3 linked regions of the Homo sapiens genome follow. The protein of the gene in region 2 purifies or fractionates together with the protein of the main gene of each other region. This does not show direct contact. Each region holds a gene or a part of one and is shown on either strand. Other genes may lie near its edges.

What was found.
Region 1: the proteins of HSPA12A (region 2) and NPTN purify together in Homo sapiens (co-immunoprecipitation; 2 studies listed by BioGRID and IntAct, with this or other methods). This does not show direct contact.
Region 3: the proteins of HSPA12A (region 2) and AKAP12 purify together in Homo sapiens (affinity purification with mass spectrometry; 3 studies listed by BioGRID and IntAct, with this or other methods). This does not show direct contact.

What each region holds. Positions count from the first base shown.
Region 1 is NC_000015.10:73,630,351-73,637,328, forward strand, and holds the start of NPTN (neuroplastin isoform b precursor), read right to left. Parts: upstream 3,040-6,978; 5' UTR 2,866-3,039; coding exon 2,775-2,865; intron 1-2,774. UniProt on the Homo sapiens protein: Probable homophilic and heterophilic cell adhesion molecule involved in long term potentiation at hippocampal excitatory synapses through activation of p38MAPK. May also regulate neurite outgrowth by activating the FGFR1 signaling pathway.
Region 2 is NC_000010.11:116,676,555-116,683,593, reverse strand, and holds part of HSPA12A (heat shock 70 kDa protein 12A), read left to right. Parts: intron 1-1,716; coding exon 1,717-1,803; intron 1,804-2,337; coding exon 2,338-2,442; intron 2,443-3,832; coding exon 3,833-4,091; intron 4,092-7,039. UniProt on the Homo sapiens protein: Adapter protein for SORL1, but not SORT1. Delays SORL1 internalization and affects SORL1 subcellular localization.
Region 3 is NC_000006.12:151,354,967-151,359,098, reverse strand, and holds the end of AKAP12 (A-kinase anchor protein 12), read right to left. Parts: intron 3,373-4,132; 3' UTR 540-3,372; downstream 1-539. UniProt on the Homo sapiens protein: Anchoring protein that mediates the subcellular compartmentation of protein kinase A (PKA) and protein kinase C (PKC).

The DNA.
Region 1 (6,978 bases), on a different chromosome or scaffold from region 2:
TGCAGTCTAATGCTTTTGAATGTCTTATAAGGTTACTTTTTAGAACAAGTTCCTCTTTAAACTACCATTTTGATGATACATATAGAAGTCAACAAATAAGGATTTTACTTGGAATTGGTCTTACAAGTTTAAATTCTTGGATGAGAAACAAAATCCATCTGAATGAAAGCCCTGAATGTCCACAACAATGGGTCAGAAACTCACTGGAGCTTCAAGAGACCTTGAGAGTCATACAGGCCAAATTCTTCATTTTAGGAATAATGAAACAAATGCCTTTTGAAAAACATCTATATTCAATCTAAACTACTACATTCCCAATTCAGAGATACTTGTGAGTTTTTTTCTCCAGTCATTTAAATAGAAAATCTAACATTTCTAACATTTCAACATCATGCACAAGCAAGGTATCCCTTTTTGAAAGCACTGTAAGAAAACACAAACTCCATGACATGAAGTCAGATCACTGCAGGGCTATTTATTACCAGCTGAAAGCTTGAATATTATAATAAGACATGTTATATAGAAAGCTATAAAATGGCATCCATAACTATAGGAACTCAAACTCAAAAATAGCCATCTCTTCCTTGAATTAAATTTACATTCATTTGGGTCAACCAGCAGCTCAGCTTCATTTCATCGGTCATGTCATGTGACTGAATTCAAGCTCATTTCAAGGGAAAGGCCGTTCTATGCTGTATTTAGAACACATATCACTGAGCAGACAGATGAGTCTTTATAGGCCTATCCAGAAACCTTGCTTTAGTTGCTAAGAAACTACAATTTTACCGTATTATAAATCATTGGAAAAAAGCTAAGCCAGCAGAGATTAAACATGTTAAGATCAAGAATCTCTCACCTATTGTGCAAAATGAAACTATGCTATTACCATAAACTGAATAGCTAAAATTAGCATTAGGCTTCTTTAAGTCATGTTGACACAGTCGAAAAACTGATAAGACAAATAAGACTAACTCTACCCTGCCTTCCACAGTGGACTCATGCTTAGAGGAAAACAGGAAAAATACCCAATACACTTAGCATATTCAATGCTAGAGACAGAAAAAATGTTTCCTTCCTGACCCCTGCAGTGATATCCAAGGCCATGAAGCACACATAAAATTTGGTACTACGAACACATATTTAACTGATGGATATTGTCAATCCTTTATTCGTTTTAGGAATAATGAAACAAACTCTAACATTCAGCATTTTAAACCCAGTTTCTCAAAAAACTCCACTGGCTCTATCACTGATTTTTTAAAATTTAAATTGCAGCCTCTCTAATAAGAGTAATCATAAATTGTTCTGGCCTAACAATAAACAATGAAAGATTAGCAAAAATAATTTATAGTTCACTCTCCAGTACTGACTTCTCATAAATTCCTTCACAGAAAAAATATTCTTTAACCTCTTAATGGCTGTTTCCACAAGGGCAGAAACAGGTTCACAATCCTAGACTCACTTGTGAAAGATCAATTCAGCAGCTGAATGCTAACACATGTCTTCAATCAGAATCTGCTCTGTTTAGGTCCCTATGCCCATGATTCCCCACCACTTCTCCATCTTCTCAAAGGAGCTTCAATTCAAAACCCAGTAATTCTCTGCTTTCTACTGTACCACCTCCCAGGGGCCACTTTCATGTTCCTCGGAAATAACGTCTCTTCTGTCTTGAAACTTTTAAATCTCAAAAATCCACTTCCCCATCTCCCTGTCGCCAGTCACTGCCCTCAATCCCACCACTGCAATTAGTTGCAGCTATGTGTCCCTGTTTTCCCAAAGGCCCGACCAATATCATACAGCATTTGCCACATCCCAACTCCTCCCTTCCCTAATTTATCCTCCACACTGCAAACCAACATTACACCCCCGACTTCCTGCATTTTACTCCCTTCCCTTATTTTTCGTCTTCCCCCACCCCCATCTCTATACCCAGGCCTCCTTACTTCTCTAATAAATATTCCCCCACCTCAGTTCCAACCCTTTCCCTCCATCCTCTGCTCATTTTCCTCTCCTTATTTAGAAACTCCTTTTTGCTCTCCCAACCACTACCCTAGAATGCCCAGCACTCCACCCTCTTTAGCAAACCCAGCCCTCTTCCCCCAGCTCATTTGGAGACACTGCTGCTTCTCTCTCCAGGTCCCCTACTGCAGTCAACCCACTCCCTCATCTTCCCACCCACCTTCCCTCTATCCCTAGATCCAAGGTTCCCTGATTCTTTACCCCCTCCTTTGGTCTCTAGTACTCAGCTCACCATTAGTGTTCCTCAGGACTCTCTTCCCCCCAATTTCCCCCTTATTTTTAAGGATGTCACCAGTCCTACGGGGCCTCAGTAGAATCCTGGACGACCCCAGCTCCCGGGGGGCCTGACGGACACCACCATCCCCGTCGCCCGGAACACAAACGCCGGTCTTGTGCCACCCTCCCTAAGAGCTGCGCCCCCTCCTCATCCGCCCCCGCTACTCCAGCTCCCCACGTCGGCTTCCTCCGTGTCCCCTCGCCGACCCGGCACGACGAGCCCCACGACGTGGAGCCTCCGAGTGGGCAACACCTCGGGCTCACCCCGGACGCCCCCGCCGCTCGGATAGGAGCCTCCGGTCCTCACACCCGCGCCTCCTCAAACCCGCAGCCGGTACCTCCTCTCGGACCCGCAGCCCCTCAGACGCCCACTCGGCCCCCTTCCCCGAGCTCCAGCGTCTCCTCAGGCCAGAGCCGGGCCCCCTCCGGCCCCGGCGCCCCTCAACCCCCGCCCGGCCCGCCCCCGGCGCCCCGCTTACCGTTCTGAGCGGCGCCTGGCCCTGGGAGGAGGGAGCCAGAGACCAGCAACAGCGAGAGGGCCAGGGCGCTGGGCAGCGACGAACCCGACATCCTCCCTAGCAGAAGACCCAACAGCGAATGGGCCGGGGCCAGAGCCGGGGCCGGGGAAGGGAGGGGAGGGAGGGAGGGGGCGGGCGAGTGCGCGAGGGAGTGAGCGAGGGAGGCAGCCGCGGCTCGGCTCCGTCCTTCCCCGTCCTCCTCCTGCCGCCGCAGCGCCCAGGCCTCGCGAGACCTTCGCTCCGGGTCGTGGGCGGCTGAGGAGCGACCGCCGCAAGGATCGCGAGAAGAGGCGGCTCCGACGGAGACTCCCGCCCCGCGGACTCGGTGGCCCCGCCCCTGCAGAGGCTGATTGGCCTAGCGCGAGGTAGGTCACGTGCCGAGGGCGCCTCTGGCCATGTGACGGGGCGAGGCGGGACTCCGCTAGCTCTCTGGGCAGTGGGGAGCTGGGAAGTCCTTCAGTTTACTCCTCTGTGGCCCGGGAGCACCCATAAATAAGAGGAAGCTTTGGAACACAGTACATTTCCTCCACCCATCCTGCCTTTCATTTGTTAGCGCTCTTGGCTACAGAGTTTCATACACCGTGCCTCCTTTCCTCCTTCCTCTCTTTGTCCCCGTCCTGCTGTTTCTTCCTTCTGGACTTTGAACATAGACCTCTACTGGTAACTGGCTCCAACCTCCTTCTCTCATCTGCTGTTTTTTCCTTCCAGGAAAAGTGGTGCGCCCCCTGTGCCCCCGTTACCTTGTGCTTTCCTGCCTGGACATCTGCTCCCTTTGCCTGAAATGTCCTCCTTTGCCGCCTCTGCCTACTCCCCCTCCCACCCCACATCTGGGCCTTATTTTAGCTTCATAGACTCTCAGGGCCTGAAGTTCAGCTAGCCTAATTGCATGTTCATTGACACAATTCTACAAGGAAGTCGTGTATGAACTTACATGAAGACTCCTAAGAAGCGTCTTAATGCGGAAAACATTTATTGAGAACGTGCTGTGTGCCAGGCACATAGTGAAACCCACATGAAAAGGTAGTCCCCGTCCTCATGGAGTGCACTGCCTAGGCTAGCAGAGGAGTGAGGAAGGGTCAAATGGCCCCATAGGAAAGGATCTAGCAAAGCACTCTGGAGGGTGATTGGCAGTGTGGTTACTACTGTTTGCATAGAAGTTTGGGAAATGCTCTTTTTAGGGGTATTTTTTGTACTACCCTCAGGGCTTGTGGTTGGCAAAGGAATTTCTATGGCTTAGCTCATCCCTGACTCACAGCAGACGTCCTGGGAGTGTCTGTGGAAACTCTGAGGGGCCAAGTAAACAGTCCTGGTGGCCTGACTTGATTTAAAGAGAGGGTTTGGAGGACCTGGAAGAAGGAGACCCTCGCAATCTCTATCAAGCTAAAGTGGTCTGGAACTTTCAACAGGAACTGAACAGCTGGTGGTTCCAGACCAAAATTTCTAGCAAAGGCCAGGACCACTATGGCATGTTGTTGATTGAAGTGAAAACTATGTCCTTCAAAACCTCAGGTGTGTGAGTGACAAAAAGATTGGCATGTACCTTCATCTGGACAAAGGCCATTCTGCAGACAGCCCAGTAAGGAGGGCTACAGGGCTGCCTGTGGTGGGATCAAGATTTTCAGCTGATGGAAGCTTTGGTTGGATGCAACCATTCTGCCTCATTATAGCTGTAACAAATGTGGCTCTTTGATCCTTACAACAAGAGATTCTTACAAAATGATCATGGTCTTTTTGTGGATAGGGAAGCTGAAGCCAAAGGAGGACACGAACGGCTCCAGCTCTCAGAATGTTTGTATTAATCATTAATGCCAACAATCTGGTTTGCTTGTTAATAGACTCATGGTAGAAGTGCATTTTCTTGTCCCCTTGAAGTCGGGAGTGGCATTGGATGTGCTTGGGTCAGTGAAATGTGTAAAGTAACATGCATTGCTTCAAGCAGAAGCATTTCATTTCCAGTTTAGACTCTTTCCCATACTCTTTCGTCTTGGTAGTGATTACTGATCATGACGATGAAAGCATATATCAAAACGAACCTTGTGTCAGCATTAGTCCCTGAGTTAGCATAATAAGCTTAACCCCCCTGCTAACCCATACAGAACAGGTACCCTCTGTTGAATTAAACTGTGAGATTCAAGGGGTATTTGTTCCTGTGACATAACATAGACTGTTCCGGCTAATGGAAAGATGAAATTCAAGTCCACAACACCAACATTACCATCCAGGAGCTCTGTCATCTTAGGCAAATGACCTAATCTCTCTGGACCTTATTTTCTGTCAAATGGTGCTAATGATAGCACCTACCTTCCAAGATTATAGAAGGAATAAATGAGTAAATTTATGTGCAATGTTTAGAACAGTTTCTGGTGCATAGTAAACACTCATGTTGATGTTGATGCTGCTACTACAATTCTGACTCCAGCTTTGTATTCTTCTTCTTATCTCATGCTTGCAAAAAGTGATCTGGGAAGAACATTTTTAAGTATGGGTGTTACCAGTCAACTCTCAAAACCTGCAGTTATGAAAAAACCCTTTTACCCAGGGAGAAATGTCACCAAATTCCACATGATAGTAGCTGTACTTTGTCACTTTTCATCGAGAAAATACATAATAACTAAGACCTTTTAATAATTCTGTAATTTTTTTTTTGAGATGGAGTCTTGCTCTGTTGCCCAGGCTGGAGTGAAGTGGCGGGATCTCGGCTTACTGCAACCTCCGTCTCCCGGGGTCAAGAGATTCTTGTGCCTCGGCCTCCAAAGTAGCTGGGATTACAGGCATCCGCCAGCATGCCCAGCTAATTTTTGTATTTTTAGTAGAGACAAGAGTTTTGCCATGTTGGCCAGGCTGGTCTCAAACTCCTGACCTCAGGTGATCTGCCTGCCTCAGCCTCCCAAAGTGCTGGGATTACAGGCGTGAGTGAGCCACCATGCCTGGTCTAAGTCAGTAACTTCCTTTTTTTTTTTTTTTTTTTTTTTTTTTGAGACGGAGTCTCGCTCTGTCTCCCAGGCTGGAGTGCAGTGGCGCGATCTCGGCTCACTGCAAGCTCTGCCTCTCGGGTTCATGCCATTCTCCTACTTCACCCTCCCGAGTAGCTGAGACTACGGGCTCTTGCCACCACGCCCGGCTAATTTTTTATGTTTTTAGTAAAGACGGGGTTTCACTGTGTTAGCCAGGATGGTCTCGATTTCCTGACCTTGTGATCCACCTGCCTCGGCCTCCCAAAGTGCTGGGATTACAGGCGTGAGCCACCGCGCCCGGCCTAAGTCAGTAACTTCTTTAAAAGAATTTAGGAATTTGTATTTTTTTGTTGTTCAAGATTTACATACACTGTAAAAAAAAAAAATCTCTGCAAGTGTGTGTGGCTGTGCCAGAGGATGGCTGAGCTCTTTGCAATACCTTAGAAGAGCCCTAGGGGTCCTCAGAGCTCAAGCTGAGACACACTTACCTGGCCTCGAGGGACTGCTTGTAGTTAGGCTCTCCGTTGCTGATCGCGCCCCCTGGTGGAAAGGTCTGGAATACAGCATTCCCAACTGAAAGGCTTCGCGTGGTTTGGTTTGAACGTGATTCACTCAAGGATGTTAGTCAAAAGGCTTGTACTGTTCCTAGAGTTGACCTTGAACTTCCTAATGGTTTCCTCCCTCTTGTAAATATCTCTGCCCCTTTAAAGCTCTTGCTATTCAGATGACCACCCCACTCATCTTGATTGTTGTCATCCTCCGACCTCCCAGTCAATGTAATCTTTTCCCTGCCCCTTCCGATGCCTGCTGGCACCATCCTTGAACTTCATCCTTGGGTGAGTTCAACATCCATGTTCGTGACCTATTCAGTATCCTGATCTCTTAATCCTTTTACCTTCTCACGTCCAACAACTTTCTCCTCAATTAAACCAACACTTCTGAGCTCACACTGTCAACACTTTAATCACCCAAAAAGTACTTCATCTTTGAAATATGAAAATGTAATACCCCACTGTCCATTCACCAACACCTAGCCTTTCAGTTCCTTGTGCTAATACCCTATTTGCTGTAATTCTTCAACCTCACTGAGACCACTAATCTGCTAATACCACCAATTTGTCTTTATCCATTCTTCATTTCTTTCTTGGTCCAATTTAGAGCCCATGATTCATCATTATAATCATTCCCTTGCCCACCTCAACTTTCAACAT
Region 2 (7,039 bases):
GTTACCCTGGTTCATCACCCACCAAGTGTCTGGGGGCGGGGAGCTTCTCTCTAAGAATCTGAGGGTAGCCTGAGAGCGGTTATTGGCCTCACATTGTACTAGGCTCTTAATCTTTCTTGTGTATTAACAGATTCTTAATCTAATTCCATTGCCTGTTATTAATTCTCCATTAAGACTGTTGATTTATTGCTGAGTCACTCATTGGGTCTGCTTCATGTGCGATGAGTTTAAAATGCAGATGAAACCGGCTGACTTTTCCTGACCTAGGTGACGCTCGCTTAGCTGTGGGAAGGAGCACCGCCTTAGGGAGACTGAGGATGGCGATTTTAAAAAGCTTTTCCTCTTTAATAATTACCTGAATGCAAGTAGGTCATAGCCTTGGTCACAGAACTTGGTTCCCTGGTATCCAGGGCTCTGTGGGTGTGTCGAGGGCTATAGGGTTTGCAGACACGCCCTGTCAGGGTCAAGGCACCAATATGAGCGCTAAGTGAGAGCACTATGGGGGTGGCGCCGGGCACTGTTGTTAAATCTCAAAGGCACGAGGGCCTAAGGTCTAAGGGTTAATTTCAGGCTGCAAGAAAAGAATTGTGGGGCCGGGCGTGGTGGCTTACACCTGTAATCCCAGCACTTTGGGAGGCCGAGGCAGGCGGATCACGAGGTCAGGAAATCCAGACCACGGTGAAACCCCGTCTCTACTAAAAATACAAAAAAAAAAAAAAAAAAAAATTAGCCGGGCGAGGTGGCGGGTGCCTGTAGTCCCAGCTACTTGGGAGGCTGAGGCAGGAGAATGGCGTGAACCCGGGAGGCGGAGCTTGCAGTGAGCCGAGATCGCACCACTGCACTCCAGCCTGGGAGACAGAGCGAGACTCCGTCTCAAAGAAAAAAAAATTGTGGGAACTGCAAGCCCCTTAACCTTTCCTGACCTGATTTCCTTCTCCGAACATAGGGACAATGATTTGTGCCCTCTCATAGCCACATAGGCGTCTCCGCCACTCAGCACCTCAAGCCACAGCAGGAGCGGAGGTTGTCCCTGTGTTCATGGAAAAGGCAGCACAGGGGTTTGCCAGGCCCAGACGCGCCACCTTGTGGCCGCAATGCATATTGGCTTCAGCTGGGTCAGGAAATGGCCCCCCCCCCCAGTCTATTTACCCAGGGTGCATGTTAGGAAAACACACCCCAAATTCCTTGTATCAGACAAAATTCCTTGATTTGGAATTGTTTAACTGAGCGCACTGCAGGCTGTTTGGCAGATAGCTTCCTCCCTGGGGCAGCAAAGCCGGGAAACTAGGCGATTTCATTAACCCATTCTCCAAAAAATGTGACCAGGGTAGGTCTCATTTGAGAGTCTCGCTCTGTCACCCAAGTTGGAGTGCAGTGGCGCACATTTGACCACATTCTCTTCTTTCAGTTTTTTTCACGTGGAAAATGGGGATAATAATTCCACCTAATTCCAAGGGTTGTTGTGAGAATCTCATCAGGGTGGGCTTTTCAGCTGGGCACAGGCTAAGCCGAGGAATAGAGGAAGGCCGGTGGAAATCACTTTCTCTGGGAAGAGCTGGCTTTGTGATTCCCGACATCGTATTGACTTATTTTGGTCAAATGTCACTAATGTTCCATCCCTAAATCTCCTCATGCTATTGCCTTCACTGACTGCAAATGATCTCTGCTTTTTCATGCTTTCTTACCCGTCATCATTTTCTTTCTGTCGGCCACTAGCTAAGGAACACATACGGCGTAATCGGCAGAGTCGGACCTTTTTGGTGGAGAATGTCATAGGAGAAATCTGGTCCGAGCTGGAGGAAGGTAGCGTCCTTCAATGTCCTTTGCTCTTGCTGGATTTTCCTGTGCTGCTCGTGAAAAGCCATTCCCATTTGTCCCTTTTGCACTTTTGGAAAATGTTCAAACTCAGTGGGTTCTAAAGACCACTCATGCAGGGAGAGCTCTTTTGGGAGCTGTAATTTTGCATGTTGTAAAACCAGGTAGGGATTGGAATTGATCAGTTCCAGAGTAAGTCTTTGGTGAAACGCAGATGATTTTAGGGCACTCACTATTCACGTGGCAGGAAACTGCCCACTAAGTACGTGCCAGGTATGCAGCAATGTGTGAATCTTAGATTCACTCACCTGGGTTCTCCATCGTCCATGTCTAACCATCCTCCTGGGCAGATTGCATTCTCTTTGGTCATGGTTAACTCCTAGAGCTGCTAATTAGCAAAACCATTGTGCTAATGAGAAGTTTTGAGGGCACTTAGCTGGGTCTACCTAGTTACCACCCACAAGCTTGTTTCAGATGGGGTTGGCAAACAGTCTGTGTAAAAGATGGCTGTTTTTGTGCCAGGTGATAAGTATGTGGTTGTGGACAGTGGCGGTGGCACCGTAGACCTGACAGTCCATCAGATCCGGTTACCGGAGGGACACCTTAAGGAACTGTATAAAGCAACAGGTGAGGCCCTGCAGGGCTAATTTTCTTATTCCTGAGCCAATTCCAGGCAGTTCTGTTTTCACTTGTTTCAGATAACTCTCAGTTTTATTCTCTTGAATGCCACTAACATGTGGGATCGTAGGCGGTGGAGGATACTAATGTCTGCTTGAAATTGGAAAGCAAAATGCAATTAAACATTCTTTAAAACACAAACCACCACAACTTGGGTTTTGGCCTAAAGCGAGCCTGTTTCAGATCCTGGCCAAGGGCGCTGGTTTCTGAAAATTCCGAAAGGATGAGATTGCAACTTGATGTTGCCCATGACCGTGCTAAGGTGAACTTTCTAGGGAGGCCTCACCTTGTCTTGGATCAAGATTGCCAAACCATTGGCCAAGTGCGGTGGCTCACGCCTGTAATCCCAGCACTTTGGGAGGCCAAGCAGGCAGATCACTTGAGGTCAGGAGTTGGAGACCAGCATGGCCAACATGATGAAACCCTGTCTCTACTAAAAATACAAAAATTAGCTGGGCGTGGTGGTGCACACCTGTAGCCCCAGCTACTCAGGTGGCTGAGGCAGGAGAATTGCTTGAACCCAGGAGGCAGAGGTTGCAGTGAGCAGACATTGCGCCACTGCACTCCAACTTGGGTGACAGAGCGAGACTCTCAAAAAAAGATTGCTAAACCAAAGAACATGCTGTTTCCCTTTTGGGAGGTTGGAGGGGAAAGGATAATAAGTAATTAGAGGATCACACAGGGACTAGACCAGGCCTGCTGATTTTCCAGCCCCCGCCCTTGGATGTCTTGGATTGGAATACCATAATGGTCCTAGTTAGATAAAATTATTGATTTTTTAAAAAATGTAATTGATTTAAAATAGATTGTTGGCTGGGAGTGGTGGCTCATGCCTGTAATCCCAGAACTTTGAGAGGCCAAGGCAGGTGGATCACCTGAGGTCAGGAGTTTGAGACCAGCCTGGCCAACATGGCAAAATCCCATCTCTACTAAAAATACAAAAATTAGCCGGGCATGGTGGTGCGTGCCTGTATCTCAGCTACTCGGGAGGCTGAAGCAGGAGAATCACTTCAACCCAGGAGGCGGAGATTGCAGTGAGCCAAGATTGTGCCACTGCACTCCAGCCTGGGCAACAAGGGTGAAAACTTTGTCTCAAAAAAAAGAAAACACAAAAATAAAATAATAAAGTAAAGATTGTTGACAAGAGATTTCTGTAGGGAAAAGCTTCTCCACATGGAATGAGAAGCAGCGCAGGGTTCTGAAGTGTAAGTAAACACTTATAGCTGCCGTCCCATTGCTAAGTGGCTCAGAGATGAACAGGTGGGCCTGTTTCTCAGAGTCTGGATTGGGTTTCTAATGGTTTTTAACACCATGGCCTCCCTTTTTGTTCTCAATTCAGGCGGACCCTATGGATCTTTAGGAGTAGATTATGAGTTCGAAAAACTTCTGTATAAAATATTTGGAGAGGATTTTATTGAACAATTCAAAATCAAACGCCCTGCAGCCTGGGTTGACTTAATGATTGCGTTTGAGTCTCGCAAAAGGGCGGCTGCCCCAGACAGAACTAACCCGCTGAACATCACCCTGCCCTTCTCCTTCATTGACTACTACAAGAAGTTCCGCGGGCACAGTGTGGAGCACGCCTTGCGGAAAAGCAAGTGAGTTGGGCTCATCACCTCGGGCTCTGGACATTCTAGCGGGTGGATCGTGCTGATGGGAGAGAGGAGCGAAGTGTGGACTTCGGGTTCCAATCCTACACACTTGCTGTATGACCTTGGGCAAGGGACTCAACTTCTCTTCCCTCAGTTTTTTTCACATGGAAAATGGGGATAATAATTCTATGTAACTCCAAGGGTTGTTGTGAGAATGCAATGAATTCATACATGTTGGGTGCTTAGAACAATGCCTGGGACCTGGCAAGTATTATCTATGTGTTTGCTAAAAACAGAGGAACTATGAAAGCAGCGAAGTTTAGTTTTGGCCCCTGCCATATCCCCAGTGTCTAGAAGAGAACCTGGTATGCAGTAGGTGCTCAATAAATATTTGTGGAATTAATCCAATGGGAATGTAGGTTTCTTGCCACTCTGAGTCCCTTGACTGATTTTGTGTCTCAGCTTGTTGCAAAATGAATATATTTAGAAGACGGTTTAAAGCCGAATTTAAAAAAAAAGATAAAAATAATAGATTTCTAATATTCTTAAACATTTTAAATTTATATATATAATATCCATCATGAAATGATGACTACAGACAGATTTACCTATCTATCATATTTCATAATTACCTTTTTCTAATAATCCTTTTGTAAGGGAACATGTCAAACATTTATCCTGTAAAATACCCCATTGTCCAGCTTCAACAACTGTCAGGTCCTGGCTAGTCTAAATCCAATTATTTTAAAGCAAATCTTAGAAATTAGCATCTCATCTATTTCAGTATGTACCTCTAAAGGAGACAAGTTTTAAATCACAACCACAATACCACGATAACACTTAACAATTAATAATTCCTCAATATTATCAAGTATCTAATTAACATTAACATTTTTCCATTTGTCTTTTTTTTTTTTTTTTTCACTTTGTACCAACATCCAAATGAGGGCTCTACATAGCAGCTATCTGATACGCCCCTCGAGTCCCACTAATGTACAGGTTCCCCTCCTGGTTTTTCCTTCACAATTTATTAGATGGCAAAACTAGTAGTTTGTCCTTAGATTGGAGTTTCCTATCATCTGGGCTTTGCTCATCTCACGTCCGTGGTGTTACACAGCAGGTTCTATCCCATAGCCTTTTTTTTTTTTTTTTTTTTTTTTGCAAGTTGGCAGATGGACTTAGAGGTTTAATCAGATTCAAGTTTGAATCTTTGGCATATCTGCCTTACGGGTGGTGGTTCCTCCTACTGCATCCCATCAGGGGACACGAAATGTCTGCCTGTCTCTCCTTTTGTGATATTAGCAGCCATTGATGATTATTGCCTGGTCCACTAATGCATTAGGGGTGGCTCCATGGCCACCATCTTGGTCCATCACTCCTTCCTCATTTATTTAGCTAGAATACTCCTAGAGAGAGAAACTTGGCTCCTCAGTGGTTTGGTTGCCCTGAACTACAGCTCACTTAGGGAAGACAGGATAAATAGGTTGGGTTTCAACCTCCATTTATGAGTTAAAAAAAAAAAAAGAATCAATTTCCTAGTATCCGCCAAAGTAGCTAATGAATTTTTCCTTTTGTGAGGGCATGAGGGGGAGTATCATTAGGAATTTGAGGATTTAAGCATATTTGATGTATTTTAAACAATGGCAATTCTATCCTTATTGACACCCACACTGTCCCATCTCGGCCAGTAGGAGCCTTCTCACGTTGGCTCTGAATCCCTTTGACATGACATTTGTGGTGGTTGACAGTGTCTTTGCCTCCTTGTATGTGAAGACACTCTTGGCTCATCTTGTACATTCCCTACCCCAGGCCTGGAATTGGCCATTTCCCTAAGAAGCCCTGGTTCCTTTTAGTGGAAGTGAAAGCAGATTTCATGTCAGGTCTTCTTGCCCTTGGAGCAGGGCCAGTCTGGACCCTCTTACTGGGCTGATGTTCTCTGCCCCGTTAGTCCCCCACAGAGGGCACCTGTCCTCTGTTTGGAATCCCAAGACCTACCTGCACAGTTCTGGGGCCTGTCAACCCTCCCACTAAGAAACAGGCTGCAGCCAGCCATGGGGTCATTCCATACCACACCACATTGTCCTTTGGCCTACGCCATGGAAAGGATTCCTTACCAACATGTTCTAGATTCCCGTCCAGCATCTAGAACATGTTCCTGGGAAGCTGCTGGTGTGCACTTTGCATCAGGGACAGAGGCGCCATTTGCTTGGCCTCTGAGAACAGGAGGGGCACGCCCTGTGGGTTTGGGGAATACACAGTCCCTGGCATTTGCTTAGTGCCAGAAAGTTTCCAGAGCGCTTTCACAGACATGGTATTTAACTTCGTCTTTACAACAACCCCCGTGAAGGAGGTAAGGCAAGCGCAGTTATCCCTGACTTCCAGACGTGGAGACTGGGCTTGAAGAAAATGGAGTCTAATCTGCCCAAAGTCCCAGAGCTCCGCAGTGGTGGTGGCCAGGCTAGAGCCCCACAATCCTGGATTCCCGTCCAGGACTCTCTGCTCCACACTGCTGCTTCTGGACAGAGACCGTGAGGGCCACCTAGTAGAATTAGGCTTACTCTGTCACCTGACAGGTGCCTGGAAGGCTGAGGACATGCACCTGAGCGCACACATGTGTAGCCGTAAGTAGCAGTACAATAAACTCGCCAGGGAGCTTTTAACGTGCTTGAATCCAAATATTGTTGGGTTCAAAGTGTGGTCCTGCGAAAGAGACAGTGAGCCCTTTATCTCCTTGTCTTTGCACTAGACTTTGGCCTCCACTATCCCAGGGGAAGGTCGGTCACAGCCAAACTTAAGATACAGAGAAGAGATTATGTCTTAGCTTTTGAGCTTCTAAGGGTCCAGGTCCTGGCAGTTTAGGGTTTCCAAAGGTGCTTTTGGCTTTCAACCCCCTTTCTGCCTGCTAAGAAGTGACAGATGTTCTGCCAGGGCAGGTGTCTATGCAGATAAGCCTG
Region 3 (4,132 bases), on a different chromosome or scaffold from region 2:
TCTGATGGCATCACTGCCTTCCGGCCTGTGTGACAGAGCCAGACCCCATCTCTACAAAATATGAAATCAAAATACAAATAAATGTTTAAAAGAAATAGTCATGTAGATTTGAATTTATGTGACACTGATTTTGTGTTCCGGTTCCGAGCTCTGCTACTATCTGGGAATCCTTGGACTGCGTCCATTTCCTTTCTTACAGGGTTGGAGAAAGAGGTTCTAACTCTGGTTCTGGTTATTGGTTGGCATTTCAGAGAAGGTTTGTGTGACTATCCAAAAACTGTACATAAAACTTTATATTGGGGAGTCCGAGGTCAGCTAGAAGCTTAATGAGATTCTAATTAAAGGAGCCCAGGACCCAAAAAGGTTATGATCATGAATAGAGATCTTTGTGGACTCACGCCTATCCTAGATACATTCATTCCAAACTCTCATGATGCTCTATGAACAAAGGGTGCTAAGTAGTTAAAAGCAGAGCTTAAATGTATGACGAATATCACAACAGACAAGAGAAAAGCAATGGAAACTGAATCACAGTGAAATTACAGAAAGAAAATCCATGGCATTTAATTAGATTGCATTTTATTTAGATAAATGAAAATTTGCCCCAAACAGAACTAGGAATCAAATATTGTCTTCGACTAGAGGTAATTGCTAAGCTGGAAGCTTATATTGAAAACTAAAATTTCCAGCCCTTGACTATCTGTAGTTCCAAACATCAAAGGAAAATATTGGAACAATTTATCTATGTACAGAGAGAGGCAACTCATGGGTACCATAAGCAAAATAACCTGAGGGGGAACATTTGATATTACAAGAAGTGGTGAGAGTTTACAAGTCTTGCATTGCTTTCTATTGTACATGGCTCTGTAGTAATGCCAAAAATAACAAAATGTAGGCACTTGCTCTGACTTCTGCAGTTTACATTAGATTATTATGTACTTCATAAATTAACAGCAGCTTTAGAATTATAAAACAGTATTATATTTCATGCTACTGTTGGTGTTCTTCTTGTTAAAATAATGTTCTCAACGGACATAGATACAGAGCTTGTACAGAAGTAACTCTGGGCACATCCAGATAGTACAAAAAGCAGTCATAAAGCAGCTACTCATGGAATCGCAACTGTGATGGCCAGCGAGCACCTGGCCACAGGTGGTAGGAAAAGACAAACGCGGGTGGAATTTAAACAAAAACGTCAATTTCCCACAAACTACACAAATCTTTAATCTGTTCAAAACAGCACAGAATGTCTTCCTGCCATAGAGAGGAAGTCAATATGAACTTGTTATAAATTGCTGTCATTTCCAAAACTCTTTAGTTGATGTTCAGAACTAGAAACCAGCACTTGGATTTCAATCTCAGTTGGCCAAAAAAAAAAAAAAAAAAAAATTATATATATATATCAGAGGTTTTTTGAATTTGGGGATTTTAATAATGATGCATGGGTAGCTATTATATATATTTGAGAATAACTCCTAAAAGATGACTTCCAACTACAAACAAGACTATATATACACTGCTATCATGAGGTGTTTTACTAATATGGCCAATTATGTATGAAGTTAGATTTGTTAGCAAAAAGAAACTACTTTCAGTTTTAAAAGCAAACTTTCTTTCCATTAAAACTAGGCTTTCCAGCTAATCAGCAGTCAAAATTTAAATTTTCAAACTGGAGTACCAAGTTTGAGTAAAATCTGGAAAGCTATATGCCAGGCCAGTTCTGTGTGTCAAGAGTAGATAAGTGACACTATTCTTCGTGTGACAATTGTCTGACAAAACCCTTAATGTAGGCTGAGGCAGGAGAATCGCTGGAATCCGGGAGGTGGAGGTTGCGGTGAGCTGAGATCGTGCCATTGCACTCCAGCCTGGGCAACAAGAGCGAAACTCTGTCTCAAAAACAAACAAACAAACAAACAAAAAAACAAACCCTCAATGTATTAGCATGACTCATCATTTTGACATTTAAAAAATTTTCCAAGATTATTTCAGGAAAGGCATTTTTACTATTAATTAAGCTTTCTTAAAATTTCTTTCTAGAGACATTTGTTATTGTTTGAAACCAAAAATATTAACACAAAAAAATTGACATTTTCAGGAATTACCAGATGGTACAATTGTAGCAAGAACGTCAATCTGAAAAGCTACTGGTTTATTTCAGGAAAGCTATCTCGGCCATGGCTTCCTCTGAACACACAAACCAGTGACAAGGGGTTTCATGTAATGACTACATCAGAAAGTTCTAGCTTATCAATCATTATCTTTAGAATTCTAATGTGGTACACATATGTCCCAGGCTTCCTGGTATCTAATAAAACCAGCAAATCTAAGTGAAGCAAATATTTTATTTAAATCAGTCGTCAAATCACAACTTATCCAAATGAATGTGTTGCAACATTGTTCTTAAAAGAATGGCACAAATATGGCACAAACACAATCCAGTATCTATCAAAATACCATTTGTAAAGAACCTGACTTATTTCATGCCATGTGTGAATGCAGTCCAGCATATAAGAGTAGAATCAAAAACTTACAACAATTCTTTTCTTCATAACATATAAAACATATTCACTACTTTGCCTCAGGATTAAGCACACTTATCGGTCCAAACAACCATAACAAGTAGGAAAAAGGATGTAAAGTTAATTTGCTACCAGAATATAACTTCTTTCTAACCTCCACTGGGTTAGAAAGAAAAATTTCCCAATGACAATAGAACATTCTGTATGTTTCAAAATGCTTTTTAGTTTTAGCACACTCCGTGTAATAGGAAAGTGACCAATTTCAGAGTACCACTAAATATGGACCTCAATCATTAGTGAATTTTAAAGAATTGTACCTTGATCAGGAATGTTACATCTAGGAGGCTCTGTTTTTCGTGGGTTATATAACTGAGGCTTAAAGCTCCCCAAGCCTGCACTATGGCACATGCCCCATCATATACTGTGTGATACAAAAAGCATGTAGTATCCTGCACATTTCCTTAAACATTAAGAAAAAAATATACAATAGATACAGGAGGACTACTTAAAACATACATATAAATATGTAAAGAATGATACTCCAGTTTCAGAAGCAGAACTAGGTATTGCCAACTCCAGTTCCAGGTTAAGAATTTAGGACCTTAAATCAGAATTTATATGGTTATCAAGGGAAAATTGTAGGTTGGTCTTGGAAAGAGGAAATGTTAAATGGCTCTAGCTCCTGATGAAGCCTCAGGATTGTCAGGGGCTCTCTAGAAATGAGATCAGTTGATGTGCCTGCTCTCCAATTCTCAAAGTTCTGAAATACTGGTCTTCAGTCTCAGCAGCAGCATTCATTTTCTTCTACTACTTGTCTTCACATTCTGGTCTTCCAAACAGACAATGAGTTTAACTGTAGGAGGAGGAAGAATCAGCGTAAATAAAATCTCCTTTTTCTCTCTCATTTATTAACAACAGGATAGTTGTCAAAGTGACCTAATAATACCATAGTTTAACTCCATTAAAAAAACAAAGATGGGGCCGGGCGCGGTGCCTCATGCCTGTAATCCCAGCACTTTGTGAAGCTGAGGAGGGCAGATCATGAGGTAAAGAGATCGAGACCATCCTGGCCAACATGTTGAAACCCTGTCTCCACTAAAAATACAAAAATAAGCTGGGCATGGTGGCATGCACCTATAGTCCCTGCTATTCGGGAGGCTGAGGCAGGAGAATCGCTTGAACCCAGGAGGTGGAGGTTGCAGTAAGCTGAGATTGTGCCACTGCACTCCAGCCTGGCGACAGAGCGAGATTCTGTCTCAAAAACAAACAAACAAACAAAAAACAAAGATAGGGCTGGGTGCGGTGGCTCATGCCTGTAATCCCAGCACTTTAGGAGGCCGAGGCGGGCAGATCACTTGAGGTCAGGAGTTCAAGACCATCCTGGGGGAAACTCCGTCTCTACTAAAAATACAAAACTAAGCTGGGCATGGTGGTGTGTTATCTGTAATCCCAGCTACTCAGGAGGCTGAGGCAGGAGGATCGCTTGAACCTGGGAGACTGAGGTTGCAGTGAGCTGAGATTGCGCCACTGCACTCCAGTCGGGGTGACAGAGTGAGACTCTGTCTCAAAAACAAAACAAAACAAAAGAAAACGAAGATGGGTTGAGCACAGTG